7 linked regions of the Homo sapiens genome follow. The protein of the gene in region 6 purifies or fractionates together with the protein of the main gene of each other region. This does not show direct contact. Each region holds a gene or a part of one and is shown on either strand. Other genes may lie near its edges. The genes, in order: ALK, TMEM127, CHP1, LEMD3, ORM1, RET and DHCR24.

What was found.
Region 1: the proteins of RET (region 6) and ALK purify together in Homo sapiens (affinity purification with western blotting; one study listed by BioGRID and IntAct). This does not show direct contact.
Region 2: the proteins of RET (region 6) and TMEM127 purify together in Homo sapiens (affinity purification with western blotting; one study listed by BioGRID). This does not show direct contact.
Region 3: the proteins of RET (region 6) and CHP1 purify together in Homo sapiens (affinity purification with mass spectrometry, with the first as the bait; one large-scale study listed by BioGRID). This does not show direct contact.
Region 4: the proteins of RET (region 6) and LEMD3 purify together in Homo sapiens (affinity purification with mass spectrometry; one large-scale study listed by BioGRID and IntAct). This does not show direct contact.
Region 5: the proteins of RET (region 6) and ORM1 purify together in Homo sapiens (affinity purification with mass spectrometry; one large-scale study listed by BioGRID and IntAct). This does not show direct contact.
Region 7: the proteins of RET (region 6) and DHCR24 purify together in Homo sapiens (affinity purification with mass spectrometry, with the first as the bait; one large-scale study listed by BioGRID). This does not show direct contact.

The regions. Positions count from the first base shown.
Region 1 is NC_000002.12:29,225,333-29,229,624, forward strand, and holds part of ALK (ALK tyrosine kinase receptor isoform 1 precursor), read right to left. Parts: intron 3,735-4,292; coding exon 3,552-3,734; intron 2,341-3,551; coding exon 2,242-2,340; intron 1,743-2,241; coding exon 1,590-1,742; intron 234-1,589; coding exon 129-233; intron 1-128. UniProt on the Homo sapiens protein: Neuronal receptor tyrosine kinase that is essentially and transiently expressed in specific regions of the central and peripheral nervous systems and plays an important role in the genesis and differentiation of the nervous system.
Region 2 is NC_000002.12:96,252,498-96,256,789, reverse strand, and holds part of TMEM127 (transmembrane protein 127), read left to right. Parts: intron 1-1,792; coding exon 1,793-1,957; intron 1,958-2,674; coding exon 2,675-2,982; 3' UTR 2,983-4,292. UniProt on the Homo sapiens protein: Controls cell proliferation acting as a negative regulator of TOR signaling pathway mediated by mTORC1. May act as a tumor suppressor.
Region 3 is NC_000015.10:41,237,473-41,241,764, reverse strand, and holds part of CHP1 (calcineurin B homologous protein 1), read right to left. Parts: intron 1-4,292. UniProt on the Homo sapiens protein: Calcium-binding protein involved in different processes such as regulation of vesicular trafficking, plasma membrane Na(+)/H(+) exchanger and gene transcription. Involved in the constitutive exocytic membrane traffic.
Region 4 is NC_000012.12:65,235,083-65,239,374, reverse strand, and holds part of LEMD3 (inner nuclear membrane protein Man1), read right to left. Parts: intron 874-4,292; coding exon 794-873; intron 707-793; coding exon 561-706; intron 1-560.
Region 5 is NC_000009.12:114,321,246-114,326,316, reverse strand, and holds the start of ORM1 (alpha-1-acid glycoprotein 1 precursor), read right to left. Parts: upstream 3,220-5,071; 5' UTR 3,184-3,219; coding exon 3,070-3,183; intron 2,655-3,069; coding exon 2,512-2,654; intron 2,300-2,511; coding exon 2,229-2,299; intron 1,528-2,228; coding exon 1,420-1,527; intron 1,269-1,419; coding exon 1,165-1,268; intron 26-1,164; coding exon 1-25. UniProt on the Homo sapiens protein: Functions as a transport protein in the blood stream. Binds various ligands in the interior of its beta-barrel domain. Also binds synthetic drugs and influences their distribution and availability in the body.
Region 6 is NC_000010.11:43,122,069-43,126,360, reverse strand, and holds part of RET (proto-oncogene tyrosine-protein kinase receptor Ret isoform a precursor), read right to left. Parts: intron 2,691-4,292; coding exon 2,553-2,690; intron 1,479-2,552; coding exon 1,379-1,478; intron 1-1,378. UniProt on the Homo sapiens protein: Receptor tyrosine-protein kinase involved in numerous cellular mechanisms including cell proliferation, neuronal navigation, cell migration, and cell differentiation in response to glia cell line-derived growth family factors (GDNF, NRTN, ARTN, PSPN and GDF15).
Region 7 is NC_000001.11:54,849,196-54,852,695, forward strand, and holds the end of DHCR24 (delta(24)-sterol reductase precursor), read right to left. Parts: intron 3,192-3,500; coding exon 3,038-3,191; 3' UTR 432-3,037; downstream 1-431. UniProt on the Homo sapiens protein: Catalyzes the reduction of the delta-24 double bond of sterol intermediates during cholesterol biosynthesis.

The sequences.
Region 1 (4,292 bases), on a different chromosome or scaffold from region 6:
CACCACCCCACCCAATTCCAGGGACTAGCATAACGAAGTGACACCTTGGCACCTGTGGCACAGCCTGAGACACTATTCAGTCCTGCCTTCCTGCCCCCTTGGGAGTCCCTGGGGCTCTGTGCACTCACCAATCATGATGCCGGAGAAAGCCAGGACCAGGGCGGCCACGAGGGCAGAGGTCACCACAGAGAGGATCAGCGAGAGTGGCAGGTGTGGCTCCGGGGTGGGTGACACTGGAAGACAGGTCCCACTGGGGTATTGACAACCACACCAGGTCTCCTTTGAGTTGGTCCCAAGTCAGAAATAACCTCCCCCACTGAGACAAAAACTACTTGCTCCTTCCCATCGCTGGAGACCTTGTCACACTTTTCTTTTCAGGGGACCATGAGCAGGACCAGACTCATCCCGATTTGACAGGCTTTTAGCAGTAGCTTTTGGGTGAAGGGAAATTTAACAGGGATGAATATCAGTGGCGGGATGTTGGTTTGAAACATGAGCTGCACAACTATGGGGTGAGGATGGAAGGTGAAACGAAAGTGGATCTGGAAGAGATGTGGGGGCCGCAGGTGACCAAACAACAGGGTGCGCTGTAAGTAACACCCTCTGAGGCTAAGTTACTTCCTTGTGGCCCTGAGGCACTGGGCTCACAGTGGGGAGGGGTCCTGTGCCCTCTGCTGGCCAGACCACACGGAGGTATCGTGCTTGGTACTGGACACTACATTTCAAAAGGGACATCGATAGTGGAACACATGCAGAAGAGGGACACTGGTGGGGCGGGGGAAGAGACACAAAACTGCATCTTGTATGAACTGCTGCAAACAAATGGGTTATTTAGTCTGAAGAAGAGTTAAAGGAGGAGGATGGGGCCAGGTGCGGTGGCTCACACCTGTAATCCCAGCACTTTGGGAGGCCGAGGCGGGTGAATCACCTGAGGTCAGGAGTTTGAGACCAGCCTGGCCAAAAGGTGAAACCCTGTCTCTACTGAAAATATGAAAATTAGCCTGGCATGGTGGTGGGCGCCTGTAGTCCCAGCTACTCAGGAGGCTGAGGCAGAAGAATTGTTTGAACCTGGGAAGCGGAGGTTGCAGTGAGCCGAGACCACACCATTGCATTCCAGCCTGGGCAACAACAGTGAAACTCCGCCTCAAAAAAAAAAAAAAAAAAAAAAAAGAGGAGGAGAATGGGAGCACTGTCTTCAAACACTGCACATGCACAGCTGCTGCTGTAAGGAAACCTAGGAGAGGAAGGTTAAGGCAACAGGTCCCCAGCTCTGAAACTGCCCAAGGGAACAGAGAACCTTAGGAGCAGTAAGATCCCTGTCACTGGGCATGTTTAAGTGGAGGCAGGATGGCCCCTTGGTGGGGGTGGTAGAGGGCTTATTCTATAGTAGAGGATTTTTAAGACTCCTTCAGGAGCCATGACCCACCTTTCACACAGTGGTCAGAGCACTCGAGCTGTGGCAGGTAGGGGAGGGACAGAAAGTTTACAAAACCGAATCCAGGGTGTTCTGGAACCCAGAAACCATTTGTGGTCATGGGCCAAATCTCAGGCTATGGGCCCCTCTGCCTCCCCTGGCCCTGCCCCCTTACCAATGCAGGAGACGCCATCCTCAGCCAGCACCGTCCCGTGGTCACAGAAGCAGATGACCTTGTGGCTTTCAGGGTCCATGTGACATTCGTCTACCTCACAGTGACTGCAGTTTAGATAATGCTTAATATTCACTTCCCCGTGGCCTTCCATCACTAGTGACAAGGAGGGAGGGTCAGTCTTGGGCCGAGCCTGCCTCCCCACTCCCAGCCTCAGTACTATGTCTCCAGGTGGTCACTGTGGGTGCTCTGGTGGTCCCTGTTCCTAGGTCCCATAGCCACTGGAAGCACAACTGTGTAGAAGAGTCTTCCTGTGCATATAGAGAGTGCAGCGGAGGCAGCGGGCATGGGTGTCTATGGATGTTTGCTTTTGAGTCAGTGGTGGAGAGAAGCCCACGCACATGATCTTTAGGTTGGCTGGTGCAGGTATTGGGCTATTACTGTTACATTTCCTAGGATTCTGCCTCTGCATTCATATTAAAGCACACATCCTGACTTCTGGAAAATGTGGTGACCTGCGCCATAGGAAGCTTGCCTGCCAGGGACCCATAATTGTGCCTCTGTATCCTGGATACAGGTCAGAGACTCTGAGGTTTTAGCTTGGTGGGAGGACTGACCTAAGCAAGTTTGTTCTGCTGCCTGGCAGAGAAGCTACCTTTTAAAGCTGGGGTGTACAGGATGCCCAGTGGACTGATGAAGGAAACCCCATCTTCCCCATCCATTTCGGGGTCATTGTTTGAGGCTGCATTGCCGCCTGAGTAGCAAACCAGAGCAGAGTTTAACATGGGGGGTGGGTGCCAAAATCTTAACACACACACACGTCAGTGGGGCATGCAGCTCTGGCCAAAGTTAGGGGGTCACTGGGGACCTCAGGGGCAGGGATGCGGGGAGGGAAGGGAGGCTCAGGGCACAGAGGCTGCATGTGGGATTTGGCTCAGTAGATGCTGGGTGTGTGGCTAATTTCCCCTCAGGTCCAGGCCAGCTCCCACTCTGCCGGTGGCCCACTAAGAAGTGGTTAATGTGAGCAAGAGTCCAAAAAGTTCTAGTCTTTCCAGGCTGGGATATGCCCATGGTGCCTCTCCCAGGACTGGTCAGGATGGTAGCACTGAAGAGTTGCTCTTCAGCCCCATTGGGTCAGGGTTGGGGTGTGGCGGGCTGTGCGGATTGCGGGAAATGAGCCCCTGTGCCCTGAGGCTCCCGTCCCTCCTTTCATCTGGGGCTGGGCTATCTTTGGGCTCCCCCCTCGGGCTCCTCCCACCCACCCAGCTTGGAAAAGAAGAGCATGTGGTTAACACAAGCATCTTACACACAGCGTCAATGCAAAACACAGACACGAACACCACAGAGCATGCATGCATTCGTCCTAATCTGTGGGGAGCGGGGAGCCATCGTCTCCCAGCCTCTCAGCTTCAGAAGGCTCTGCTGACTGTGCTCTGAAGCCCAGACGAGGCAGCTGGGGTCAATGGGCAGCTGCTTGCTGAAGGGCTGGGCTAAGCCTGCCTGCAGTTGCCCTCGGGAATAGCTCCCATCAGCAGGCACAGCGGCGCCTTTCAGGAAGCTGGTGGGCTGAGGTAGGGAGCAGGAGTAAGGAGTCCATGAAACCACAAACCAGCCCCTTCAGGAGCTGGCTTGGCCAGGCCATCCAAGGGAGGCTGGGGGAGTCCTTATGGGTGACTCAGAGACTAGTCTGGCAAGCCAAAGCCTCTTTATCATCGACTTTGGGGGACATCAAGAATCACATGGGATCTTGATGCTGTCGCTGAGGAAGCCTGGAGGCAGGGTGCTGGCTCGAAAGCCAGCACCCTGCCTCTGGCTGGTCCAGGCAGGTCGAGAGGGAGGCGTGCAGTCACATCACAGTCCACACTTGGGCAGGCCAGGGGAGGGCAGGGGAGGGCAGGGCAGGGAGGTGAGGAGCCTAGGACTAAGCAGGGAGGGAGTGACACCTTGAACACGAATCATCTTTACCTATATATCCTCCGCCTCCTCCACCTGAGGAGCACCCCCCTCCACCCCCTCCGAAACCCCCTCTTGTCTCCCACCCCCACTTCTTCATGGCCTGGGGGCAGGAATGTCCTCCGGTGGCACCCTCCTGCAAAGATTTTCCGGCCCAGAGCAAGGAAGTGTTATCATTCCAGCCACCTCCACCACCTGCGGGAAGAGATAGGGAACCTGCGTGAGGATGCTGGCAAGGTTCAATTAGCCATGCTGGCCAGAGAAGCAGGATGCAGGACGCCTTGGAGGGCGCCCGCACCAGCTCCAGCTCCCGGGGCCCATCTTCAGTGGGGCCTGGGGGCTTCAGATCCACACTAGGAAAACCAGGAGGCTGCTTGCCCTAGGAGACCTGTTTGGCCACAGCTGAGTACACCCAGATGAGAGCGTGCCTTGTACCCCTGCTTCCTGCCAGTACTCTCTGGCTCAAAAGCAGGGGCTGTGCTTGGTTAAGGATGGGGGGACGTGGGCAGACAGGCAGCATGGCGACTAAACTCGTTCCTCTATCTTCTCTTCATGTCAGCCAAGCCCCGTAGCACTGGACCTTCGTTTCATTAACTGCCTCCCGTCCTAACGAGAAAAGGGACTCACCAGTCTTTGAGCAGCCACATGTCAAAACCTTGCACTAAAGTTCCTTGCAGGAATCCTGGACTAGGCTGACCAGAGAGCCCGTTGCTGTCTGTGAAACCCTGGGGAAGAACGCCCCATTCTGAGCCT
Region 2 (4,292 bases), on a different chromosome or scaffold from region 6:
TTCTTTTGTTCTCGTAGAGTTCAGGGAGGGAGCTAAACTAAATGTGATATAGTCTACCAACTTTCCTAATCTATGTAATACTTTCTTGTAGCTGCACATTTCTCTAAACTGCCGCAACTTCCTTCTTCCTCTTTTCTTTATTTTACTTTTTTTTAAAATTGTGGTAAAATATACATAACATAAAACTTAGCATTTTAACTTTTTTTTTTTTTTTTTTTGAGACAGAGTTTCTCTCTTGTTGCCCATGCTGGAGTGTGAAGGCGCAATCTCGGCTCACCGCAACCTCCATCTCCCAGGTTCAAGCAATTCTCCTGCCTCAGCCTCCCAAGTAGCTGGGATCACAGGCATGCACCACCACGCCCGGCTAATTTTGTATTTTTAGTAGAGACAGGGTTTCCCCATGTTGGTCAGGCTTGTCTCAAACTCCTGACCTCAGGTGTTTTGCCCGCCTTGGCCTCCCAAAGTGTGGGATTACAGGTGTGAGCCACCGTGCCCTGCCAACATTTTTTTTTTTTTTTTTGAGACAGAGTCTCACTCTGTCACCAGGCTGGAGTGCAGGGGTGCAATCTCGGCTCACTGCAACCTCCACCTTCCGGGTTCAAGCAATTCTTCTGCCTCAGCCTCCAGAGTAGCTGGGACTACAGGCGCATGCGATCACACCCAGCTAATTTTTGTATTTTTGGTAGAGACGGGGTTTCACCATGTTGGCCAAGATGGTCTCGATCTTCTGACCTCGTGATCTGCCCGCCTCGGCCTCCCAAAGAGCTGGGATTACAGGCGTGAGCTACCATGCCTGGCCAATATTTTGTTTTTTTAAGAGACAGGGTCTCTCTCGGTCATCCAGGCTGGAGTGCAGTGGTGTGATTATAGCTTACAGTAACTCCTGGGCGCAAGCAGTCCTCTTGCCTCAGCCTCCTAAGGAGCTAAGACTATAGGCATGCGCCACCATGCCCAGCTAATTTTTTTTTTTTCCTCAAAGAGACGGGGTCTCACTATGTTGCCCAGGCTGATCTCAGACTCTTGGCCTCGAGCAATCCTCCTGCCTCAGCCACCCAAAGTATTAATAACCATTTTAAGTGTTGAGTTCATTGATATTAAGCACATGCATCATGACTATCTGTTTCCAAAACTATCATCATTTCAAACTGAACCTTTGTGCACATTAAATGATAACTTCCTGTTCTCCCCTCTCCCTACCTGCTGGCAACCACCATTATATTTTCTGTCTCTATAAACTGATTATTCTAGGTATCTCATATGAGTGGAATTATAAAATATTTGTCCTACATTTGGTTGATTTCACTTAGCATAGTATCTTCAAGTTCAACTTCTTTTTGGAACAAAAAGGGAATGAATGAGTGAGTAAATGGAGAATCAGCATTAATTGACCTGTATGGTCTTAGCCTCTCTGGCTGTCTCAGCTCCAAAGTCAGGCTTTTCCTGCCAGCTCAAAATATCCTTTAGCAGAATGCATTAACATGTCAGGTTAACTGTCAGTGTCTTTAAAAATGGTTAGAAGGGCATGGCATACACAGTGAAGTAGAATCCTGCACTTAGGCTAGTCCTGTTGGAAAGAGAAGGACTTGAGGTACAGGAGAGCAGTGGCCTCTGCTAATGTGGAATTTGCTCCAGCTACCCTGCAGACCACCCAGGAGCAGGGGCTAAGACAGCGTCCTCCAGAACTGCCCTGGCTCCCAGGACTGTGGTGGAGGGGAATCAAACTCCTTCTAGGTGGGGACTTCCTGCACCAAGTGTTACTTGGGGCCGTGAAAATTTGGTTCTCCCTCTACAGATTTCTGCATGAATCCCCAGACAGTGCTGCTCCTGCGGGTCATCGCCGCCTTCTGTTTCCTGGGCATCCTGTGTAGTCTCTCCGCTTTCCTTCTGGATGTCTTTGGGCCGAAGCATCCTGCTCTGAAGATCACTCGTCGCTATGCCTTCGCCCATATCCTAACGGGTAAGCCGTGAGCCTGCTCACAGTGGGAGAGGAACTGCTACAGGGTGGGGGCATCCTGTCTGAGTTGCCGGTGGGGGCTCTGGTTTCTCTGAGCAGGCACCCTTCCAGGAGCTCATGTGCCAAGCTCCAGTCTTTCCCAGAGTGTCAGGGTGTCAGCAGCCTGCTCCAGTCTAGCTGCTAACTTGCCAGGATCACAAACCCACTCAGCCCAGCTGTAGAGGGGAAATGTTGCTAGAAATTCCACAAGGAAGCTCACAGCTCTCTAAAATGGCATTTGAAGCTCAGACCTGACATGAGTGAAGAAGGAACCAGGCAGTCTCCCGTGTCTCCCCTGGAGCTCCTGGTCAGATTCTCTCCTCTCCACCTTCCTGCTTCCCTACAGACCCGCCTTTTCTTGTATGTAGCTGCTGTCCTCCCTCGTGCCTGCACTGCTGTGCTGGTTTGAATTGTGGTGTGCCTACTCCAGCTCCCAAGCTGCATGACCCTATTTGCTCCTTAAGACAGATGGAATCTGACTGGCCTAGATCAGGTCAGACTGCTGTCCCCAACCTCAGGCCAGGAATCCCATGGTCAAGAGAGCTCCTCCTTGCAGAGTCTGGGGCCAGGCAGGTTCTCTGAGAATGGGGTTTGGGTAGAGAGGCTGTGATTGGGTCCTCAAGCATCCTAGCTGTGGAGTGCTCACTAATTCCCCTTCTGTGCTGTCCCTCTGTCTCCTAGTTCTGCAGTGTGCCACCGTCATTGGCTTTTCTTATTGGGCTTCTGAACTCATCTTGGCCCAGCAGCAGCAGCATAAGAAGTACCATGGATCCCAGGTCTATGTCACCTTCGCCGTTAGCTTCTACCTGGTGGCAGGAGCTGGTGGAGCCTCAATCCTGGCCACGGCAGCCAACCTCCTGCGCCACTACCCCACAGAGGAAGAGGAGCAGGCGCTGGAGCTGCTCTCAGAGATGGAAGAGAACGAGCCCTACCCGGCGGAATATGAGGTCATCAACCAGTTCCAGCCACCCCCTGCTTACACACCCTAATGCCAGCCCTGGGCTCTCTTCCTCGGCAGCCCCTCCCTCAACTCTGCAGCTCCTCTCGCACCCAGAGGAGCTCCTTTCCCCAGCAGGCCTCACTGGTAGGATCCTGACCATCTTCTCCAAACCTTCCCCAGGAGAGACTCTGCCTTTAGGGTCATCCAAGTATCCCTGCTCTCAGAACCGGAGGTCCACTGGTTTTCTATAATGTACTCTTTCCCTCCTGCCACATCCTGCCCCCTTCACATTCACGAGTCATTACCAGCCAGGGAAGGTCATCCAAGTTTCCTCCAGCATGGGCGATATCTTTGGGACCGAGACTTTCCTTGGAGAGCTGCTGAGAGCGGACAGTCCCAAAAACAAGTGTCAAAGGGCCCAAGGGAAAGGGGACTGTGCCCTGGAGGCTCACTTCACAGGGATCAGTGTTTGCTCCACAGCTGTAGCTCTGGGCTGACGCCCCCCAGACCCCTTCCTTCTCGGAGTGACCCGCCCCCAGGCCACCTGCTCCGGGGAGTTCTGTGCACTTTACTCTTTGGACTTCTCCTCACGTGTGCCCTGGTTTTATGGGGAGAGGGAATCGCTGTTGGGAAGGCAGAGCAGTTGCAACCCTCTCTGCCCTTGCTTCATGTGGCTGGAGCCCAGGCAAGGAGAGCAGGAGCCAGCGTGAGACTGAGGCCCCCTGGTGCCTATCAAGGACCAGAGTGAAGGGGACTACATCTCCCAGCCCTTCACCTTTTAAATATGAGTGGTTTTAAAAGGAAAAAAATGAAACCAGGCAACAGCAACAATATTCTGTTTTTAAAATAGGGACAAGACTGTTGTCACTTTTTAGACATGTATCCCATTCCTTTTGGCTCTGCAATATTTGGGGCTGTAGCTCCTTCCAAGCCCATGGTAGTCCCTCCCCGAGTCTCTCCCAGTAGAATGCAGCCTCCCTTCCCTGGCCCCTTCCCTCTCAGTGACGGTGACTCCCTGGGGCCTTCTCGTGGAACCCAGAGGGGCTGAGGACTGTGGCCTGGCTGGCGGGCCAGCGTGGTGCTCCTCAGGACTGCAGCACTGAGATGGAACCTGGCCTCAGTTTAGGAACAGGGGCCACAACAGGGCAGGAACCCACCACCCTCCACATAGGAATACAACCAGTGGGGCCACATCATGTGAGGCATCAGACCCACACTGTCAGCCCAGCAGGCCGGGCTGTGTCCTTCAGACCCAGTGCTGCCCTAGACTCTGACTCGGGACTCCAGCTTGCCACGTGCCCTCTCCCCTCTTGAATGTACTCTGGTCTTGCAGTGTGCTGCTGGGACTTTCTTGCTCAG
Region 3 (4,292 bases), on a different chromosome or scaffold from region 6:
TGGCCCAGAGCTGGGATAAGAGGACACACTATGTGTGGCTGTGAATTCTTCAGCATCAGGTTTCACCCTCGAAGCTGGGCTCTGTTCTGTCCTAGTGCTCTAAAGTGATCACTGAGCAGAGAAGGCAAAAGCATTTCCATCGGGGCAGAGCCAGCAGGGATCCAGCCACTAAGGAGACAGTTGTGGACTGTTTTGCCAGCCGGACAGGTATAAATGGCTCACTGTAAAGTGTACACACTTGTGAGGGTTAGGCAGACAGATTCTGATTCCATTGCTAGCACCATGGCTTACCAGAGAGAGGTAAGTGAATGGGATTGTAGAGCGAACTCACCAGTCAATGAAAGGAAAATGCTTGGCAAAGTGCCAGGCACATGGCAAGCACTCCAGATTAGCTATTATCAGCATCATGCTTACATCCTGAGCCTGAAGGCACAAGTATTACTGCTGCACTAATTACTCTCCATTTCCCTCCTGACTTTGCCAGTTACAACCGTTTTCTTTAAGAACTTGACCAGTCTATCCCAGTTCTGGCCTCAGGCCTCAAAGGCTATTCTTGTACTAAAGTTCCCTTTAGTTTAACAAAAATAAGTCAGTTAAAGAATTACTAAATTTCAGGCTGGGCGCAGTGGCTCACGCCTGTAATCTCAGCACTTTGGGAGGCCAAGGCGGGCGGATGCTGAGGAAAAGAGATCGAGACCATCCTGGCCAACATGGCGAAACCTCGTCTCTACTAAAAATACAAAAATCTGCTGGGTGTGGTGGCGTCTGCCTCTAGTCCCAGCTACTTGGGAAGCTGAGGCAGGAGAATCACTTGAACCAGGGAGGCGAAGGTTGCAGTGAGCGGAGATCACGTCACTGCACTCCAGACTGGTGACAGAACAAGACTCTGTTTCAAAAAAAAAAAGAATTACTAAGTTTCCCAAAAGATTTTTTGAAAAAAACAAAATTTGTTCACAATCCCAACACTGCCATTTTCATTTCTTCATAGATCTTTTTTTTTTTTTTTTTTTTGAGATAGAGTTTCGCTCTTCTTGCCCAGGCTGGAGCGCAATGGCACAATCTTGGCTCACCACAACCTCCGCCTTCTGGGTTCCCGTGATTCTCCAGCCTCAGCCTCCCAAGTAGCTGGAATTATAGGCATGCGCCACCACACCCAGCTAATTTTGTATTTTTAGTAGAGACAGGGTTTCTCCATGTTGGTCAGGCTGGTCTTAAACTCCCAACCTCGGGTGATCCACTCACCTCGGCCTCCCAAAGTGCTGGGATTACAGGCATGAGCCACCGCGCCCAGCTCTTCATATATCATCTAATATCAGTTACTCGTGTACTTTACAAAGTTGTAATAGCTTGCTTTTCATTTAGTAATTCATACTTTTTCTATATTGCTTTGGAGTCCTTCTTTATCCAATTTATATAATTTTAAAATTGGTAGAAATGTTATCTAATCCGACCCCTTCAATGAACAAATGAGAGCCAGGCATGATGGCTGGCGCCTATAATCCCAGCACTTCCAGAGGCAGAAGCAGGACAATGATTTGAGGCCAGGAGTTCAAGACCAGGCTGGGGAACAAAATAAAAATAAAAATAAAAAATAAAATTATTTTAAACCAAAAAAATCCACAAATGAGCCATTAAACATCTTTCTAATCTATATCATCTAAAATAACTGGGCACTGAGGCTGGGCGTGGTGGCTCACACCTGTAATCCCAGCTGTAATCCCAGCACTTTGGGAGGCCGAGGCGGGCGGATCACGAGGTCAGGAGATTGAGACCATCCTGGCTAACACGGTGAAACCCTGTCTCTACTACAAATACAAAAAATTAGACGGGCGTGGTGGCAGGCACCTGTAGTCCCAGCTACTCGGGAGGCTGAGGCAGGAGAATGGTTTGAACCTGGGAGGCGGAGCTTGCAGTGAGCTGAGATTGCGCCACTGCACTCCAGCCTGGGTGACAGAGAGGAGACTCTGTCTCGAAAAAATAAATAAATAAAAAAGAAATAAAATAACTGGGCACTGAAACCTCCTATAGTATGTTAAGACCAGTTTATGGCTGCTTAAATTCAAAATGTGGCAAGGCCTGGTGGCTCAAGCCTGCAATACCAGCACTTTGGGGGGCTGAGGGCGGGCAGATCACCTGTGGCCAAGAGTTCAAGACCAGCCTGGCCAACATGGTAAAACCCTGTCTCTACTAAAAATACAAAAATTAGCCAGGTGTGGTGGTATAATCCCAGCTACTTGGGAGGCTGAGGCAGGAGAATCGCTTGATCCTGGGAGATGGAGGTTGCAGTGAGCTGAAATCTCACCACTGCACTCCAGCCTGGGCGACAGAGTGAGACTCCGCCTCAAAACAAAACAAAACAAAACAAACGATAACAAAAAATAATGTACTAATATGTTAAAAATAAATAATGTAAATAAGTAGCCAAAACATTAAAAAAAAAAAAACTATCTTCCAGGACGAACTGGGTTATATGGGAGTCAGTGGAGAAACATACAACCAAATGTCAACTTTTAATACTAATCAATATGGTCATATCTAAACTTATCTCCAAAATTTTAGAACAAATTTTAGAACCATAACGATATGGTTACAAGTAATTTTGTTAACAAAAAGAAGGAGAGAAGGCTTTAATTTAGGTACTAAATTCACTGTGACAAAGAATATAAAGCAATCTCAGAACAATCCCAATCTACCTATAAAGGAGCTACACCATCCATGTGTAGAAAGGTACTGGAACTGGTGTGAATGAAGGCAGATCATGTTTCCAGTGAAGTATTTTCCCCAGAAGGCTCTAAGCTAGTCAGATAGGTGCCCAAAACCTGCACAATTCTTGGTAACCCAAAGGAAATAACAGGAGTTGACAGTTACTCTCAGAGAAGGCCGTGCATATAAACGTGTCTTTTTTCTTTTTTTGAGATGGAGGCTTGCTTTGTCACCCAGGATGGAGTGCAGTGGCGCGATCTTGGCTCACTGCAAACTCTGCCTCCCAGGTTCAGGCCATTCTCCTGCCTCAGCCTCCTGAGTAGCTGCGACTACAGGTACCTGCCACCACCATGCCTGGCTAATTTTTTTTTTTTTTTGTATTTTTAGTAGAGACCAGGTTTCACCGTGTTAGCCAGGATGATCTCGATCTCCCGACCTCGTGATCCACCCGCCTCAGCCGCCCTAAAGTGCTGGGATTACAGGCATGAGCCACCGTGCCCTGCTATAAACATGTCTTGAATGAAGCTGTATTTTTTCTCCACTGGTATGGGTATATAATCATTTTAAATTGTTAAAAGATTATTTAAAAGACCCTGTTTGGCTGAGGGCAGTGGCTCATGCCTGTAATCCTAGCACTTTGGGAGGCTAAAGTGGGAGGATCCCTTGACGAAAGGCCAGTTCAAAACTAGCCTGGGCAACAAAGCAAGACTTCATCTCTATAATCAATCAATCAATCATTAGCTGGGCATCGTGGTGCATTCCTGTACGCTGAGCTATTTAGGAGGCAGAGGCAGAAGGACTGTTTCAGCCCAGGAGTTCAAGGTTGTAGTGAGCTATGATCACACCCCTCCACTCCAACCTGGGTGACAGAGTGAGACCCTGTCTCAAAAAAAAAACACACGCCAAAAAAACAAAAAAAGACCCTGTTAACGTTGCTGAAATCTTTCTATCATCACTGCATTGTGCAAAGAGGAGGAAGGCATTTCACAGAAGTGCGAAGCAGAAGTGGCAGAGGAAAGAATAAAAACAAAAAGGGAGTAAGAAAAAGTTATTTTGGAGGGCCAGGCATGGTGGCTCATGCCTGTAATCCTAGCACTTTTGGGAGGTGGGTGGATTACGAGGTCAAGAGATCAAGATCATCCTGGCCAACATGGGGAAACCCCATCTCTACTAAAAATACAAAAATTAGCCGGGCATGGTGGCACGTGCCTATAGTCCCAGCTACTCAGGAGGCTGAGGCGGGAGAATCCCTTGAACCCGGGAGGCGGGATTGCACCACTGCACTCCAGCCTGGTGACAGAACGAGACTCCATCTCAAAAAAAAAGAAAAGAAAAAGTTATTTTGTCCTTGCCTTTATTCCAAATCTTAATGCAGAAGAACAGACTGATAACCTATGTAAAGATTACAAGTACAGCTAAAGGTAGCTCTAGATAAAGGAAAGTTGAAGCCTGCGCTTCCCGGAATAGACTACACCTTAACATTCCCCCTGACATGAAGACTTCAAGCCCTGGACTAGTCTCTTAGGGATTAAGAGAGATTTTAAAACATTATATAAAACAAACAAAATCTATCTTCTTATAATTGGAGA
Region 4 (4,292 bases), on a different chromosome or scaffold from region 6:
AGGGTCTATGCTTCCCAGGCTGGTCTTAAACTCCTGAGTGCAAGCAATCCTCCTGCCTCCCAAAGTGCTGGGATTACAGGTGTGAGCCACTAAAGCTGGCCAAAATGAATTATTTTTAAAGAAGAAAGAAAGAATGAAAAAACAACTCTCACCTAAATCCCTATTATCAATTAAAAAATGATAAAAATTTTAAATGTAGGTAAATTACATTTTAAAAACTAAATTTTAATAAACTTTATAACACTTTATTATTTAAAAATAAGCTCAATTTTTGTATTTTTCAATTCTACTTTCTAAAGTAGATTTCTATGTATATACTGACCACACTTGTTTTTCTGTGACAGTCTTATAACAAAGTTTTATTTCTACCTCTCCTTATATTACTGCTTTCTAAGCCTTTAGAATGATTCTGACATTATTTTTATTATATTTAGTGAAGACATCTAGCTGTGACTTATGTGGCAACCATCACAAAAATGAATTCTCAACTCTGGCATTTAGTGAAATACACACAAAAATTCAGGCTGCAATTTATCTCATTTCTTATCTTTACAACTTACCTAAGCATAACAACAATAATCTGTGAGTTACAGTAACAAAAGCACGTCGAAAACGACACCAAAAAGACATCAGTGGTCTTGTGGACTGTAAAAACTGCACATCAGTTATATTTGTCAATTCTTCCTCAGGGCCAAAACCAACACACCTATTTAAAAATAAGTAAGGTAGAATTTAAAGTCAAAAACCATTTCTCCCAGTACAGAATGGTCAAAGTGGAAATCAGATCCTTTACCTTATTCCAACATCTTTTCCATTTTCTAAGATCCACTGCAATGAAGTGTTAAATATACCTTCATATTCAGGACCTAAATCCTAACAAGAAAAATAGAGAAAAATAACTATTCTTAATCTACATTCGACTCTCTGTAAAGTATCCTTTATAACACACTCTATATAACATTTTTATTTTAACTACATAACATAAAATATTCATTACAGAAAATTTTAAAAAGAATGAGAAAAAAGAAAAAAAAAGTTAGCATTTTCCCACTACTCCAATATAATCAGTGTTAATATTTTGCTTTTTTATATTTTACATATTTGGGAACTGAGTCTCTCTCACTCAGGCTGGAGTGCAGTGGGACAATTTTGGCTCACTGCAGCCCCCGCCTCCTGGGTTCAAGCAATTCTCCTGCCTCAGCCTCCCAAGTAGTTGGGATTACAAGCATCAGCTACCAGGCCCAGCTAATTTTCTTTTTTCGTACTTTTAGAGAGACGAGGTTTCACCATGCTGGCCAGGCTGGACTTAAACTCCTGACCTCAAGTGATCCGCCAGCCTTGGACTCCCAAAGTGCTGGGATTACAGTCATGAGCCACTGCGCCTGGCTTGGAAGTTCTTTTTTTATCATTAGTTTATCAGTGCCATCATAAGAGTGAATTTACCACTTTTAAAAATGCAATATTATTTATAGATGAACAAATAAATGGCAAACTCTTCCAGATTTGGATGTTTCACAGACAAGTATTCTCAACACATAAAAGCAGTAAGCCTATCAACTAAAGAAAAACTGACCGGGTTACCAATTATAAGATTTGAGCATTCAAGTAAAAAGTAGAATTTTGAAAAACTAGCATTCATCTTTGTGACCTGGACAACTTCACAATACTTGAAGACCTTTCCAATGAGATTTGTGTGACATTAACAAATGCAGTTTTTTGATATGGAATAATGAAATGTGACCAATGCATCTGAAAATGACCAATGCATTTGAAAAATTCTGATTTTTATAAAAACCAATCACGCATAGGTAAAAGATCCATTCAAAGTACAAAATAAAAGGATTTTATGAGACAAGAGTACAAAAAGTTCACTGGCACAGTCTGACATTCCACATTGCAACTAACATTTAAGAAACTACTACTTATAGAGGTTTGGTATGGTATCAAAGAAAATATCTATCTACAATTACCTGAAAAGGCAACTAAAATACTTTCCAATGTTTTGACTACATATCAATGTGAGGCTGGATTTTCATGACATACTTCAACTAAAACATCATGACAGATTGAATAAAGAAGCAGATAAGAATCCAGTCACCTTTTATTAAGCTACACATTTAAGAGATTTATAAAATATATAACAATGCCACTGTTCTCATTGAATGTTTTCATTCTGGAAAAGTTATTTTTCATAAAAATACATTACGTTAACATATAATAGATTCATTTTTCTTATTCTAAATACATAAATTTTTTTCAGTTTTAATTTTTAATATAAACATGTATTTGTAATACATATTTACCATTAGAAAGTAAATATATCTTTCTAATAGAAACAAAAACATATAAATGTATATCTCCCACAAACAAAAGCCAGAGTCCTCAGTAATTATAGGGAACCAAAAAGCTTAAGAACTGCTATGTGTGGGTAGAGTATTTTTAAATTAAAATAGTAAAAATAAATGTGGTATCATATTACACATACTACTGTTCTACTTGTTTTCTTCATGGAACAAAATATTGTGTCAATGTCAGTTTACATGGAAAAAACCCTATTTTTTTCAACAAAATAGTATTCCATTGTATGATTATTCTATACTTTTAATCAACACCTTATTAATGAACATTTAGAATATGTCCAATTTTTAAAAATTTATCAAATATAATACTGTTATAAACACCTTTACCATGTGCCAAGTACTATTTTAGAAACTAGAGGTGCAGCATAAACAACACAGTGAAAAATTCCCTGTGTTCATGGAGCTTGTATTATTAGTATGTCTTTATGTCCCTTTTGAGCAAAAAATGAATTTTTTTTTTTTTTGAGACAGAGTCTTGCTCTGTCACCCAGGCTGGAGTGCAGTGGTGCGAACTCGCCTCACTGCAACCTCCATCTCCAGGGCTCAAGCACAGTCTTGTGCCTCAGCCTCCCAAGTAACTGTGATACTACAGGCGTGTGCCACCACACCCAGCTAATCACTGTATTTTTAGTAGTAGTAGAGATGGGGTTTCGCCATGTTGGCCAGGCTGGTGTCGAACTGCTGGCCTCAAGTGATCCGCCTGCCTTGGCCTCCCAAAGTGCTAGGATTACAGGCATGAGCCACTGTGCCTGGCTCGTAGAGGAAAAAATGAATTTCTAAAAACAGAAATAAAAAGTCATTTCAAATTCTCTCTAAAAAAAAGATTTTTCTAAGAAGTGTCCTATTGTATTTTATCAACAGATTCTTCAACAGCATTGGAAATTATAAGGTTTTCATTTGATCAGTATAGTTTACTTCCTAATATAAAACTGGTAAGTTATTCTAATGTATCAAATTTGCAAATGTAATAAAAAGTTTTATAAAGCAGAACTAATCTTGTTAGGCATCATTACATGAAACTACTATTAGGATTTTTAAGATGGTGAAGATAACTATAGGCCATCTGTTTTTTTAAGCTTGGGTGTTTATTATAGCATTTACAAACATCAAAAAAATTGCAGACAATGTATTTAATGATTGAAAAAAGGTTTATATATGAGATCATTTCAATGGATATTATGAACTTAGAAATAATCATGATGAGAGCTAAACAGCTATCTGCTTAAAAAAATAAAACTACAACATTTAATTTATATATACAGTCATACCTCAGTATTCACAGAGGATTGGTTCCAGGATGCCCCATGGATACCAAAATCCACAGATGTTCAAGTCCCTGATATAAAATTGCATAGTATTTGCATATAACCTATGCACATCATTCTTTATACTTTAAATCATTTCTAGATTACTTATAACACCTAATATAAATGAATATAGATAGCTGTATTTTTAAAATCTGTATTTTTTCCATTGTACTTTTTTTCTTTTTATTGCCACTAAGATTTTTGATCCACGGTTGGTTAAATCCATGGATGCAAAACCCATGTATACGTAGGGCCAACTGTATTTATAATTATAAAATATATGTACTCATATGAGTAGCACAAGAATGAGGATACAAGTGATTTTTATTTGCTTTAATATTGTTTTAAAATATTATGCAATAAAGTTACACAAAATAATTTCAGGCAATTAGTTTCAATTGTTATAAATATACTACTAGAAATCACTTTGTATATAAATGAAAATCTACAAAGCAAGATTAATATAGGTTATCAGTGTAGCTGAAGACAACATTATTGCATTTAGTCTTCTTTGTAATGTTGTCACTACCATACATTTTTAAAAAGGATTTTGTACTCATTTAGTTCTTCAAAGACACAGATGCCACATAGTACCCTTCAAATACATGCATATATTAAAAATCAA
Region 5 (5,071 bases), on a different chromosome or scaffold from region 6:
GCTTCTCCAGTGGCTCACACTTATCCTAGAAGGCAGCGGGGAATTGGGGTGAGGGAGAAGCAGAGGCATGGGGACAGGGTGGGAGGTCTTCCAGGGAGAGGGCAGAATGAGCTCTGGCCTGTGGAACCAGCTCAACCAGGGCTCCAACCCTGGCACTGTCACTTCCCAGCTGGGTGATCTTGGGCAAGTCATTTTCTGTCTCTGAACCTCAGCTTACTTGCCTCTACAATGGGAGCTCAGACTCTTAAGAATCACTGGCATTTACTGTGCACTTAGGACCTGCCGAGCCCTTATGCTGCAGCTCCTGAATTCCTCACAACCACCACTACTATGCAGATGATGTAACTGAGGAGCAGGGTGGCCTTGGGACCCATTCGAGGCTCCCTAGCCAGACAGTGGGGGTGCCAGGCTGTGGATCAGGTGAGCTGACTACAGTGGTTGTGTTCATAAGCCCTGTCCCAGGATCCTGGGACTGCAGATGGGGGCAGGAGGTAGTTCACACCACTGGTGGTCATCTCAGATGGCAAATGGAAGGAATTGTTTTTCTTTGAATAGTCATGGAAGTACTGCATGTATATATTTTAAAAATTGGAACCAGCTCATCGGTGCTGTGATTTCACAGGTATTGGGCACAGGGCCACACCAACGCAAGTCTTCCAAACACAGGTTTAAAGAAAAGTGTTAAGGAGCTCATTATAAAGTAATTTTCATTTGTAGCAAAAATCGGGATGGTGACTGTGGCCGTGCTGCAGTGTGGGTGACATTGAAAACCACAGTATCAATTCCCCACTGCACGGGTATTAAAAATGAGTGGGGAGTGGAGGTGGGGTGAAAGCCTGGGGTTTGGGACGCGTCTGTAGGTGGTAACTCCCCGCATTACGTCCCCTCCAATTGCCAATCCCCCAACCCCGTGGCTCACGCTGTTCCCTCCTGTTAGCTTTCAGGTCCTCCCTGGTTTCACAGGGACTTCTCCCTCCTGGGCTCTCATCCACCACCCCTGGGCCTCTGTAGAGCTCAGCTGTCCCTACAGTGAGGCAGGTGCCTAAAAGCAGAAGATCTGCCTAGCTGTGCAGCCTTGCCTGGCAGCTCTCCTGCTCTGGGCCTCTGGGGCTGCCCAAGTTGGGCCATGGACAAGGTGGGCACTGTCCAATCCCTTGCGTTTACCTTTTTCCAATCGGTGTACACGACATCTGACTTGGGAATGCGCAAGCAGTCGAGAGCTTCGTAGAACTCTCCCAGTTGCTCCTTGGTCGTCTCTGGCTTGTCAGCTGCAGGGGGAGCAAGGAGACTGACTGGGGACATGGTGGGGCCCGGCGGGAGGCCAGGGAGGGCTGGGGTTCTAGGGGCCAGCCCAGGGGTGGGTGAATGGGGGGTGAGGCCTGAGAGGGGCATGAGTTTGGGGCTGCTAAGCATGCCTACCATAGACAGACAGCCCCCAGTTCTTCTCATCGTTCACGTCAAAAGCAAGCATGTAGGTCTTGGTGTCCCTGAGGATCAGCAAGTGAGCGAAATGCTCTTGGCCTCCCACTGGAAGAGAAAAGGAGCCTCTGGGTGAGAACATGGGATGGCACAATGGTGTCTGTCTTACAGGTGAGGAGGCCTAGGTGTGTCAGTGGCCACACAGCCCATCAGTGAAGGCCCAGGGCTCCTTTGGGCCACCGTGTGCCCAGCCCCTGCTGCATGCCCAGCTCCACGCCAAGCACTTTCTGTACATGAGATCTCAGGAGCCTCACACAGACCGTGGCTGTCAGGGCCTTTCTCCGTTTTACAGATGAGGAAAATGAGGCCCAGAGAGGAGGCTCGGGATGCTAAATGGTGTCAGTTCAGCTCCATCAGCTCCCTGCCATGTGCCACCTCTGCGGTGATGGGGGACATAGTTGAAGGTACCACCTCTCCAACATACAGGCTTCTACCATTGGTTTGCAAAGGATCTTAAAGAGGGCATGAGAGAGAGGCAGATCTGAAGCCAGCCTGGAGTTCCAATTCTAGTTCTAATTATAAGCTGTGTGACCTTGGGGAAACTATTTGAGGTCTCTGTTCTTCTTTTTCCTCCTCTAATTCTCTCAGTGTCCTCTTAGAGTTGTTTCTGAGCACATCGTTAGAGCTCAAAAATGTTAGTGGTTATTTCTCTGTGCCCAAAGCCTCCAGGGCTCTACATCCAGCCCCCACCTTATGCTGGCCTGCCCTGTTCCCACAGTGAACCCTCCTGCCTGAGGGCTGGCCCTCACCGTATCTGGAGATGGTCCCATTTTCCCGCTGGACATTCAGGTAGGTGGTGTTATAGATGCACTGGTCCTGTCTAAAGCCAAACAGAAGGCGGAAGGAAAACAGGAAGATTATTGAGAAGTGGCCAATCGCCCATCACAGTCCTGGGGCAAGAGTCTGGTGGAGATTAAAGCCAGCCCTCCCGGTTCCACCCATGGGAAGGCCAAGGCCAGGAAGAAGGAGGGACTTGCTCAGGTCTTCTGGCCAGAAGCTGAGATGGGGGTGCATTGGAATGGGGGCTCTCACCGGGTCTGGTACTCTCTGAGAAAGATCGTGTCCTCTGTCTTGTTGGGGGTGAAGTAAAAGAAGGTTGCTTGGATCTCCTGAACCGACTTATTGTACTCCTCGTTTCGAAAGGCCGATGCGATATAAAACCACTTGCCAGTGATCTGGGGAGAAGGTGGGAGCTGGTGATGGGGGCTTGATGCTGAATCTTTGACTGTCAGCTGGGAGGAGACTCAGGCAGATCTCTCCCTGATTTTGCAGATGGGGAGATGAGGCCCCTGGTGGGCAGTGCGCATGCAGGAGCTCACCCTGAGGATCAGTCATTGCCCCCCAGGCAGCCCCTCCAGGCCCAGCACAGAACCGTCCTCCGTGAAGGACTCTGCAGTGAGGCTTCTGTGTTTGGAGGCAGGGGGTGCCTCCAGAGTCCCCTGGGCTGGTGAGAATTTCACCCTGGGGACCCAGAAGAGAAAAAGGCAGAGCCGGGAGTGGGGGTCCGACCACAGCCAGCAGGGAAAGGGAAGCCCAGAGAAGGGAGGCAGCTGCCCATGTGCTCAGGACAGGGCTAGCCCAGGCACTCACCCGGTCCAGGGTGGCGTTGGTGATGGGCACCGGTACTAGGTTGGCACACAATGGGATCTGGGCTTCCAGCAGAGGTAGGAGGCTCAGGACTGTAAGAACCCAGGACAGCGCCATACTGAGACCAGGAGGCACGTGGAGCCAGGCAGTGCTGGTGGCTGCAGGGTGCAGTCACCTTTATAATAAACTATGGGCGGTCACTTGGAGCCCAGCAAAAGTTTACTCTGTGTCTGTGACACAATCCTGCCAGCACTTGGGAAATGCCTCGCACAAAACCTCCCCCAAAGGCCAGCTCGGAGCACCGCCTCCAAACCCAGGTCTAATTTGAGTTCCTCACATGGAGAGGTTACAAAAGCCCTAGAGTATGGCTGCCCAAGGCCAAGGTGGGTGCGGGGCTGCAGCAACATTAGTAAACGTGTGAGTCCACAGATTTCCTAGAGAGGCCTCCCGCAGAGGAATCTCATGTCTTCATTCAATTCCTATCCCTCTGAGTGCCAAGACTTACTTCAGTGGGACCCAGCCACAAACCTAATGATGAAGCCACCTTTGAGGGTCCCCAGGCTGGCATGGGATGTATGTTGTGGCGGGGAGAGTTGGGGTGAAGGATGCCGGGGAAGACAAACATAGATTCAGTTCCACTGAGTGTGGCAACAGCTGTGTCAGAGCCAAAGTTCATTGGGGCCCCAACCCAGCCCTGGACGCAGGCACATTTCCAAAAAGGGACATCCAAGTTGAATGTCTATTTCCAGTAAATATACTACTCGAAGCATCTCCCAACATCTCAAACAGGAAACTGTCTCCCTGTTTTCCCCCATTCCCTGCCATCTGAGCAGGCAGCTTGCTTCTCTTTCACCAATACGCCCCCAATCCTGGAGCAGTGCCCAGCACTTCAAGGGCACTCGGTATATTCTGTGGAATGAGTGATTCCGTGGCCCATTTGTGTTCCTACCTCACGGGTCAAGTCTTTATTTGTATGAATAAATACTTTCAGAAAGTATTCATTTTTTTTTTTTTTTGATACGGAGTTTCACTCCCGTCCCCCAGGCTGGAGTGCAATGGCTCAATCTCGGCTCACTGCAACCTGTGCCTCCTGGGTTCAAGCGATTCTCCTGCCTCAGCCTCCTGAGTCGCTGGGATTACTGGTGCCCTCCACAACGCCCAGCTAATTTTTTTTGTTGTTGTTATTTTCAGTAGAGATGGGGTTTCTCCATGTTGGCCAGGCTGGTCTGGAACTCCCGACCTCAGGTGACTCACCCGTCTCGGCCTCCCAAAGTGCTGGGATTACTCAGAAAGTATTCTTACGGTATGATTATAATTTTGCATTCTTATTCATTTCATTCTGAATAACTTTCATATTTCAGTGTAGTTTGTAGTTAAAAGCTTAATGGACCCAAGATGGGAGAGTCACCTGAGTCCTGGAGTTCAAGACTAGCCTGGGCAACATAGTGAGACCCTATCTTTACACAAAAATATTTAAAAATTAGCCAGGTCGGCCAGGCGCGGTGGCTCACGCCTGTAATCCCAGCACTTTGGGAGGCTGAGGCGGGCGGATCATGAGGTCAAGAGATGGAGACCATCCTGGCTAACATGGTGAAACCCCATCTCTACTAAAAATACAAAAACAAAATTAGCTGGGCGTGGTGGCAGGCGCCTGTAGTCCCAGCTACTTGGGAGGCTGAGATGGGAGAATGGCGTGAACCTGGGAGGCAGAGCTTGCAGTGAGCTGAGATGGCGCCACTGCACTCCAGCCTGGGTGACAGAGTGAGACTCCGTCTCAAGGAAAACAAACAAACAAACAAAAAAATTAGCCAGGTCTGGTGCCATGTACCTGAAAGCCTAGCTACTCTGGACTCTGAGGCTGGAAGATTGCTTGAGCCCAGGAGTTCAAAGCTGCAGTAAGCTGTGATTTTGCCACTACACTCCAGCCTGTATGATGGAGCAAGAGACCCTGTCTCAAAAATAAATAAATAAATAAATAAATAAAAGTGTAATGGATGCACAACTT
Region 6 (4,292 bases):
GTGTTGTCTATTCTGTCTCTTCCCCTGGAAAGTCACCTCCCTGGGGAAAGAAATGTGCTCCCTCAGCGTCTTATCTCCAGGGCCTGGAGGGCAGCCTTGGGGGACGCCTCATCTAGCTGCCCCTGGCCCAACCCGGAGATGGGCAGCACGGAACCAGCCCGCTGACAAACCCTTGGGCTCTGGGGGAGCCCACTGCAGCCACATGCCAGGACGCAGCCCCAGCCTGCAGGATGTTTTCCAGCTTTCCCCAAGGACCCCTGCCATCTAGAACGTCACGTCAGGGCTGAGTTCTGAAATCTGACAGCGCTGTCAGGGTGCACAGGACCCTGCTACAGGCACGGGCTCCCCAGCACGAGGGGCCACTGGCGTCTGCTCCTTTCAATGCCCAGCTTGAATGTGCACAGAGGGGCCCAGCGTTTTCCCGGCTGTTTCTCAGCACTGTTCTAGGAAGGCCAGCACCAGTGATCGCTTCTGTTTTGAACAACGCTGCATTCTCAGGACTTGAAGTTTTCATCCAAGCGAGACAGTGATGTGAAGTTTTCCTATGGGGTCCTAGGTCCTGCATCCCGCTATCCAAGTCGGAAGAAGTGACAACTCAGTAAATGTGCCAATGTTAAGACAAGGCCTGTGTGTAAACCCCGTGAGGGCAGGGCTGTGCTGGTCTTGTTTATCTGCATTCCCAGCCTCTGAGACATAGTATGGGTCCTAGCAGCTGCCTGATGAATATTGGTTGAAAATGTGTAGACCTCACAAACTGTACTTCCAGGCACACAGGCTGACTCTGGCCACCCCCCGATATGCTTTGTTTGGCCTGCGTTCGGCTCTGGGAAATTTAAATGAATTGTTAACAATAAAAACTGGGAGACAACATAAACCTCATAAAATTCAGAAGACCCAGCCCATTCCTGGCTCCTTTTTCTGCAGGCCACAGGTACTCCAGCAAGGAACCCTTTGGAGGGGGCTGGCTGTTTGCCACAGTCTCCACTGCTCCTTACTCACTGCCCTCCTCCAGCCGGACCCCCCTCTGGGCATCTGAATTTTGGGCACTTGCTTTAACTCAACTTTCTCATTTTCCATTATGGAAAACTATTTCTTTTTGGCTTTGGAATATTTTCCTCCCATGCCTGTCTGTAGAGAGCTTTTCCTAAATGTCAAGAATCTTGGTTTCTTCATGACTTGAAAAGAAGCCCAAGCGGCCTGGCCTGAGAAGGGTTCAATCTGCTGTCTGCATGCAGGGGAGAGCATGACTCTCTCTCTCTGCACAATCCCACTGTGGCCCCACACTGGGAACTCTGAGGGCTAAAACTACTGCCCTGGGGTGAGGCTGGAGTCTCCCCAAGCCACTTTCAGCTTGTGGGAATTGGACCCAGGCACTCACTCTCCTCTTAACCATCATCTTCTCCAGGTCTTTGCTGATGTCCGCAAACACCGGCCTTTTGTCCGGCTCCTGCTTCCAGCATTGCAGCATCAGGCGGTACCTGGTGGGAAGAGCAGACAGGCCAATATGATCCAAGCAGGGCCAGGTCTCAGAAGGACAGCCCACCACAGCCATCGCACCCTGCCCTGTACCCTGGGCCCAGTGTGCTCTGTCTCCAACTCCAAAGCTATTTCTGCATCGCTGACATCTCTGAGCCTCGTGGGACTGGGGCATGGCCTGTTGCAGGATCCCAGCCCGTGGGCCACTGTGCTCAGGTCTCTCAGAGCTGTGGTCCAGAATCCTACAAGCTTCCCTTCCCTCCAAGGGAGATTCATTTTTACTTCCCTTGCAAAGACACTGGTAAACAGCTCACTGGATACTATGCTTGCTCTGGCAGCTAAGTGAGAAGTGCCAGTCCTTAAAACTCTCAAGAAGAATGAATTGATTGAGGGCTTTTAGGTGTGGAGACAGACAAACAAGAACCTTTGGCAATCACACGTCTGTCCTGCACCGTCCTTGCTTGCCTGGGTGCCCAGGCAGACCACAGCGCTCCAGCTGGCCACCAGCTGGGGGCCCAGGGAGGTGGTACCTGGCTTCTCGGCCCAGCATGCCCCCTCCACGCCCCAGCAGTGTGCACACTCTGTGGAATGCATGTACCATGCATCTCTGCCTCTGGGCAGCCCTTTCTCATCTGTTCTCAGCCTGGTTTCTAAGACCATCTCCCCTGAGAGTGTAAAGGTTTCAACCTCTCAGGTTGCAGCCCAGGCTGCCCCTGCCTGGCTCTGCACCTCCACTCAGGCACCCCTTAACACGTGCCCCCTGGGCCATCTGGAATTACCTTCTCCTCCCTAAGTGTCCTGCTGGGACAGCTCTCAGCCCTTGAGCTTGCATTGCACCAGTCTCTGCTCTCACTCATTTTTATAAGACCCCCTAGGAAGCCCACCAGCCCTCAGTGGGGTAGGACCCCCAGCATCTACTGCCACACCCAAGGATGGCTCTCTAACCTCTGCCCTGCCCACTCCCCACCCCCCACTTCTCCTGGTTTCTCCTGGGGCTGCTCTGGATGGGGAGGGAATGCACACAGATGTCCCCTCCCTTCCCAAGTGAGGCTGGGCCAAAGCCAGTCCCCGCTCACATCTCCTCGCTGCAGTTGTCTGGCCTCTCCATCCGGTGGCCGGTCTTCAGAAGGTTGAAGAGCCGCTCAGGAGGAATCCCAGGATAGGGGTTTCCCCCTAGGGTCACGATCTCCCACAGCAGGACACCAAAAGACCATCTGCAGAGAGTGAAAGGACCAGTGAGTGGCTCCACCTGGCCCTCACAGAGCCCTCCGGGGGGCCCAGATATCCACCCCCACCACCAAGCACCTGCTGACCCTGTCGGCTTCAAGCACAGATGCTCACAGATGTCAGCCTGGGTCTGGCTGCTCAGATGGATGTAGCATGAAGGTGGGGAAGGGCTGCCTGCCTGCCTGGCCCCTACTCCATGAAGCTGAAGTCCTTGCCCAAGCCACTCCCATCAGAGCAGCCACACGCACAAGGGACACATGAGGCTTAAGATGAATTCATGATTAATGAATTAATGATACATTAATTAATATCATGAATTAATCTTAATAATTCTTAAGATTCTCACACTTAAAGCGGTGAGAATGCAGGCCACCAGACTCAGAGTGCCTTGTATAGTTCTTTTGCCATTTCTATGTGCTTGGAAAATTTCATAAAATCTTAGAAGGAAAAAAAGCTATAGAAAAACATTTTAACTGTGAAGGAAAACTCGCTTTGCAATGGGAACAAAATCATATCACAAAACAGCATCGCATGAGCCCATTTAGGGCAATAAAAAGCATACATGTGCACACCACGGAGCACACCAGAGGGCAGCCAGAGGTCACTGGGCGGTGTGGTCCAATGACATTCAGTCTCTTCTTTATGCTTTTCTCTGCCTTTTCCAACTAGCCTACAGTCAGCTTATATAATCGGAAAGCTGTTGTCCAATTGCTTATTCACAGCCCACAGTATTTAAGATGCACATGTTGGCCAGGCGTGGTGGCTCTCGCCTGTAATCCCAGCACTTTGGGAGGCTGAGGTGGGTGGATCATTTGAGGTCAGGATTCAAGACCAGTGTGACCAACATGGTGAAACCCTGTCCCTACCAAAAAATACAAAAAAATGAGCCAGGCGAAGTAGCACGTGCCTGTAATCCCAGCTACTCAGGAGGCTGAGGCACAGGAATCGCTTGAACCCAGGAGGTGGAGGTTGCAGTGAGCCAGGATTGCGCCACTGCACTCCAACCTGGGTGACAGAGTGAGACCCTATCCCCTCCCCCCACAAAAAAAGAGAGGCACATCACACCTCTGCTGACTGTAGAACACTTTAGAGGCAAGAATCCTGTGTTTTAAAAGTGATCAGCTCTTGTCATTGGACCTGGAAGAATGAGATTTTGGCTTCCACCTTTGAGCAGTTTGGGGCACACCAATCTATAAACTCACACAAGGCCATCTTCAGGTGGAGTCCCCAAGCTCCACTTGTGGGTGGGGGCAAGTCACTGGGTGCTCTGCCTGAGCCCAAAGCCCTACTCAGGACCACAGGAGGGTAACTGCTGGGCTGGGCCTGAGTCACCAAGGGACCCAGAGGGAGGCATGGGACTAGCAAGGGTGGGGGAGGCTGGGTTACTGGCCACCTGCTCGGCTCTCATGCTCTACCGGAGCTTTCAGAACTGCAGCCCGGCCTGGCCCAGCCATTTGCCTCACGAACACATCATGAAGGCCCCTCAGTGAGGGGGTCATTGCAGAGGGCTAGCACTGCAGACAGGTGCTCAGGGCCAGTGCAATTCCCTGGCCAAGCTGCACAGACGGGCGTCGTGGCCCCACTACATG
Region 7 (3,500 bases), on a different chromosome or scaffold from region 6:
GGAAAGGTAGTCTAGCTATGTGTCCAAAGAATGGAGGAATGCATTTTAATGGACAGCTAGTGGGTCCACTAGTTTGTAGATGAGGACAACAGTCTCAACAGGATTAACTTGCTAAAATTAATTGGTCACAACCAAGTGACAAAGCCAGGCCTCCACCCTAACCAGAGCCACCATCGTCTCACCTGGACTGCAGTGGTGGCCTTCTCACTGGTCTGCTTGCCACCCTGCACACAGAGGGATCCTTTCAACACTTACTCCAATCACACTCTGACAGTGATAGAAATAAACCTGTCAGTTCCTGCATGTTCTTCTAGCCCTCGGCCATGGGCTCATGGGTTCAGTGAGAGCAACTGAGTTGGGGAATGGCACAGCCTGCACCCGAGCCCAGATCTGACTCCACATTTTGGTCCCCCAAGCAAGAAACGACAAACGCCAGCTTCCAGGCCACTTTTATTTAAACAGAAGCAGCGGCCCCACAGCCATGGGGACATGTCTTCCAGACAGTAGACACAGTGCCTGTGGCTGTAAGAGCCTGACAGGGAAGATTCATGCCTTTCTCCTTGGCCCCCATGACCAAAGAAGAAAATAAAAATCACACACCATACACTGCCACACCCATCTCCACCCCTCCCTTTCAGTAATATCCAAGTATTCATCCTTCTGGCCAAAGAAACTGGCTACAATTCTGATTCTAAAGAAAACCTTCATGCAGCCAAGAAACTCAGGGCTCTGGAGGGGAGAGCCTTACTCTGATACTTTCCACATGCACTGCCCACTGGCATCAAGTTTAACTCCATCCAAAACCATCACATGGATGGCCAGGGACAGGACTGGCTACAAAAAAAAGCCATGAACTCAGCTCACCATGCTAAGAAGACTGCCTCTTTCCAGGCAAGATTTTACTGGAGCAACATAACCGGAGGGTGTGATTCCAAAATACCTTCCTTTCCAAGCCCCGGGTTGTGGATAAGGTCTGGATTTTGGTTATATGACTAAGGGCGACAGAGGCTGCTGGCATCTCTGGCCACCGTCCCAGTGGCTTAGGGTTGGAGGCTTCACTGGCAAAACAATGGCACTGTTTAACTAGCTCGTGTTAACCATTCATCTACAGCAAGTAGAATCATCAGTTTTGCACTGAGCAAGGAAGCACATGGGTCTCCTATGAGAGCTAATGCCAGAATTCACATGCTTTGTAAAATATAGGATGAGGTTTATTTCTTTCTTCTGCCCCCTCCAGAGGCCAAATGGGTAGGGTGGTTCCTTTGCCTTCTGAGTGCCTGGATGCCCCCAGCCCTCACAAGACCCTGCTAAGACACTGGCAGTGTGCCAAGCCTTGGGTGGGATGGGTGAACACCCTTCAATGACTCTGAGAGGATTCTGGCACCTGGAATGACAAGACAGATGCTTCCCTGCAAGCCAGGTATGAGCCTTTCTGGAAATGAGATGGGAGCTGACCTTGGGGTTGAAGGAAGGATCTTGAATGACAGATAATCCCCAAGTGTCCACTGGATCATTTTTCCTCTGACTTTCCACACAAATGAGGCTTTCCGTGGGTTTTGCAACCACAGTGTCTAAGACAATCAGAAGGGTTCCAGGGAGGTCTTGTCTGTAGCGATGTGACAGATGAGGAAACTGCAGCTCAGAGGACAATGACTTGCCCACGTTGCACAGCTCGCTGACAGTAGAGAGGGGCTGAAACCTAGGTCTCCTGACTCACACGCCACAACCATGACTGGCTCAGCTCCCTTAATTCCAGCTTCCCTTACATGACGCAATTCCTTCTCAGATTCGGGTTTTCAGCTGAGGCTGGGCAGTTCTTAAGATAGAGTTGCATAAACAACCAAGCTTTGCGTTATAACAAGCCAGGGAAGGACCTAGGGAGGTTCCCTTCCCTCTGGAACGGAAATGGAACTTTCTCTGAGCTTAGGATTTGTAAGGCACTGAAATTAACTACAGCTGGGGTGGGGAGTGGTGGAAGAAAGAAAAAGAGGGATGAGTGGTTGGAGAAATCAAGTCGATGCTCTTTTCTTCCAGCCCCACGGTGAGAATCCTACAGAAACATGAGGGTGGACTCCACTTTCCCACCTGATGCTGTCCACTCCCCAGCCCCTGCTGCAGAGCAGCGCGGACCCACTCCCACCAAGACAAAGTGGGTTTTGGGAAAGATGAGGCCTGCAGGGTTGGTGAGCCAAGAAGAATGAGCCCAGGTCCCCTGGATCCAATTCAGAGCGGAGACCACTCTCTCCACCTAGGTGTCCCAGGCTGAGGCTGGGACAAGATTCAACCCTGGAATGCCTTCTCCAGGAACACAGGGCACTCCGAGTGGACTCAGTGGTGGCTGGGGTGGGCCTGCAGGCCCAGGCATGAAGGAGGAAGGGGCAGGACGGCACCAAGGATGGCAGGGAGAACTTTGGCCTCGGACCTGGCTTTGGCACAGCGCATCTGGGGCCTCCCCACTCCGTGGCTGCCCTCCTGAGATCCCAGGGTGGGGAAGAGCTGTCCTTCTCCTGTGAGGACCTCGTCTGGCTGATGGAGGCGATGGCAGGGCAACTCCAGCGTATCCCCTTCATCATTCCAGCCATGGCTGTGCACAGGTGACCTAATGTGGAGCCTTTTCAGGCTCCACTGCAGATGTGACGCTGAACGGGAAGCAACAAGAGCTACCACTTACCCAGCACCTTCAATGTGACCAGTGCTCAACTCAGATGACAACAACCTGCAAGTAGGTATTACTATCCCTTTCAACTAATGAAGAGACCCGGGCTCAGAGGGGTTAAGGGACTCACCCAGAGTCACACAGCTAATGAGTTCTAAACGGGGAACTGGACTCAGGCTTGTCTGACTCCAAATCCCACATTCTTTCCATTCCACTGGGCTGCCCCCTGGAAGCCAGGAGGAAGGTGGTGTTGGGCTGTCAGGGTGGGAGTTCTGGAGGGGTTTCTCTTTGAAAGTGTGGATCTAGGAAAGCAGCCAAGCTTGAGTGAAGGGAAGATGCCTGACCACTCACACGTGTCTGTCTCTCCAGGCGGGCTCCAGCTCAGTGCCTGGCGGCCTTGCAGATCTTGTCGTACACCTCGGGGAAGGCGTCCTGGCAACCCAGCTTCTCTCGCAGCTTGTGGTACAAGGAGCCATCAAACATCTCCCAGAACTCCTCCCGGTTCATGTAGCAGTCGGCATACAGCATCTGGAAGCTGCAGAGGCAGAGAAGTGGGTGAGGACGCCAGGAGGCACACGGAACGCGAGGCGTGAGAGAAACCCAACTGCTCATTCTGCAGCCCAGAAAAGGCTTTTGGAGGATTTCTCTTGTTTAACCCCGTTAACCTGGTGAAGAAGATGGTGCAGGTATTCTTATCCCCCTTTTGCAGGTAGGGAATTGGGGCTTGGGGGTTAGGTAGCTTAGCAGTGGAGGTAGAGTCAGGAGTAGAGCTCAGACTGCTGGGCTTCTGCCCCTCTGCTTGGCCAGAGGCACAGCTGCCTTCCCTAATGGAGCAGTGGGGTTG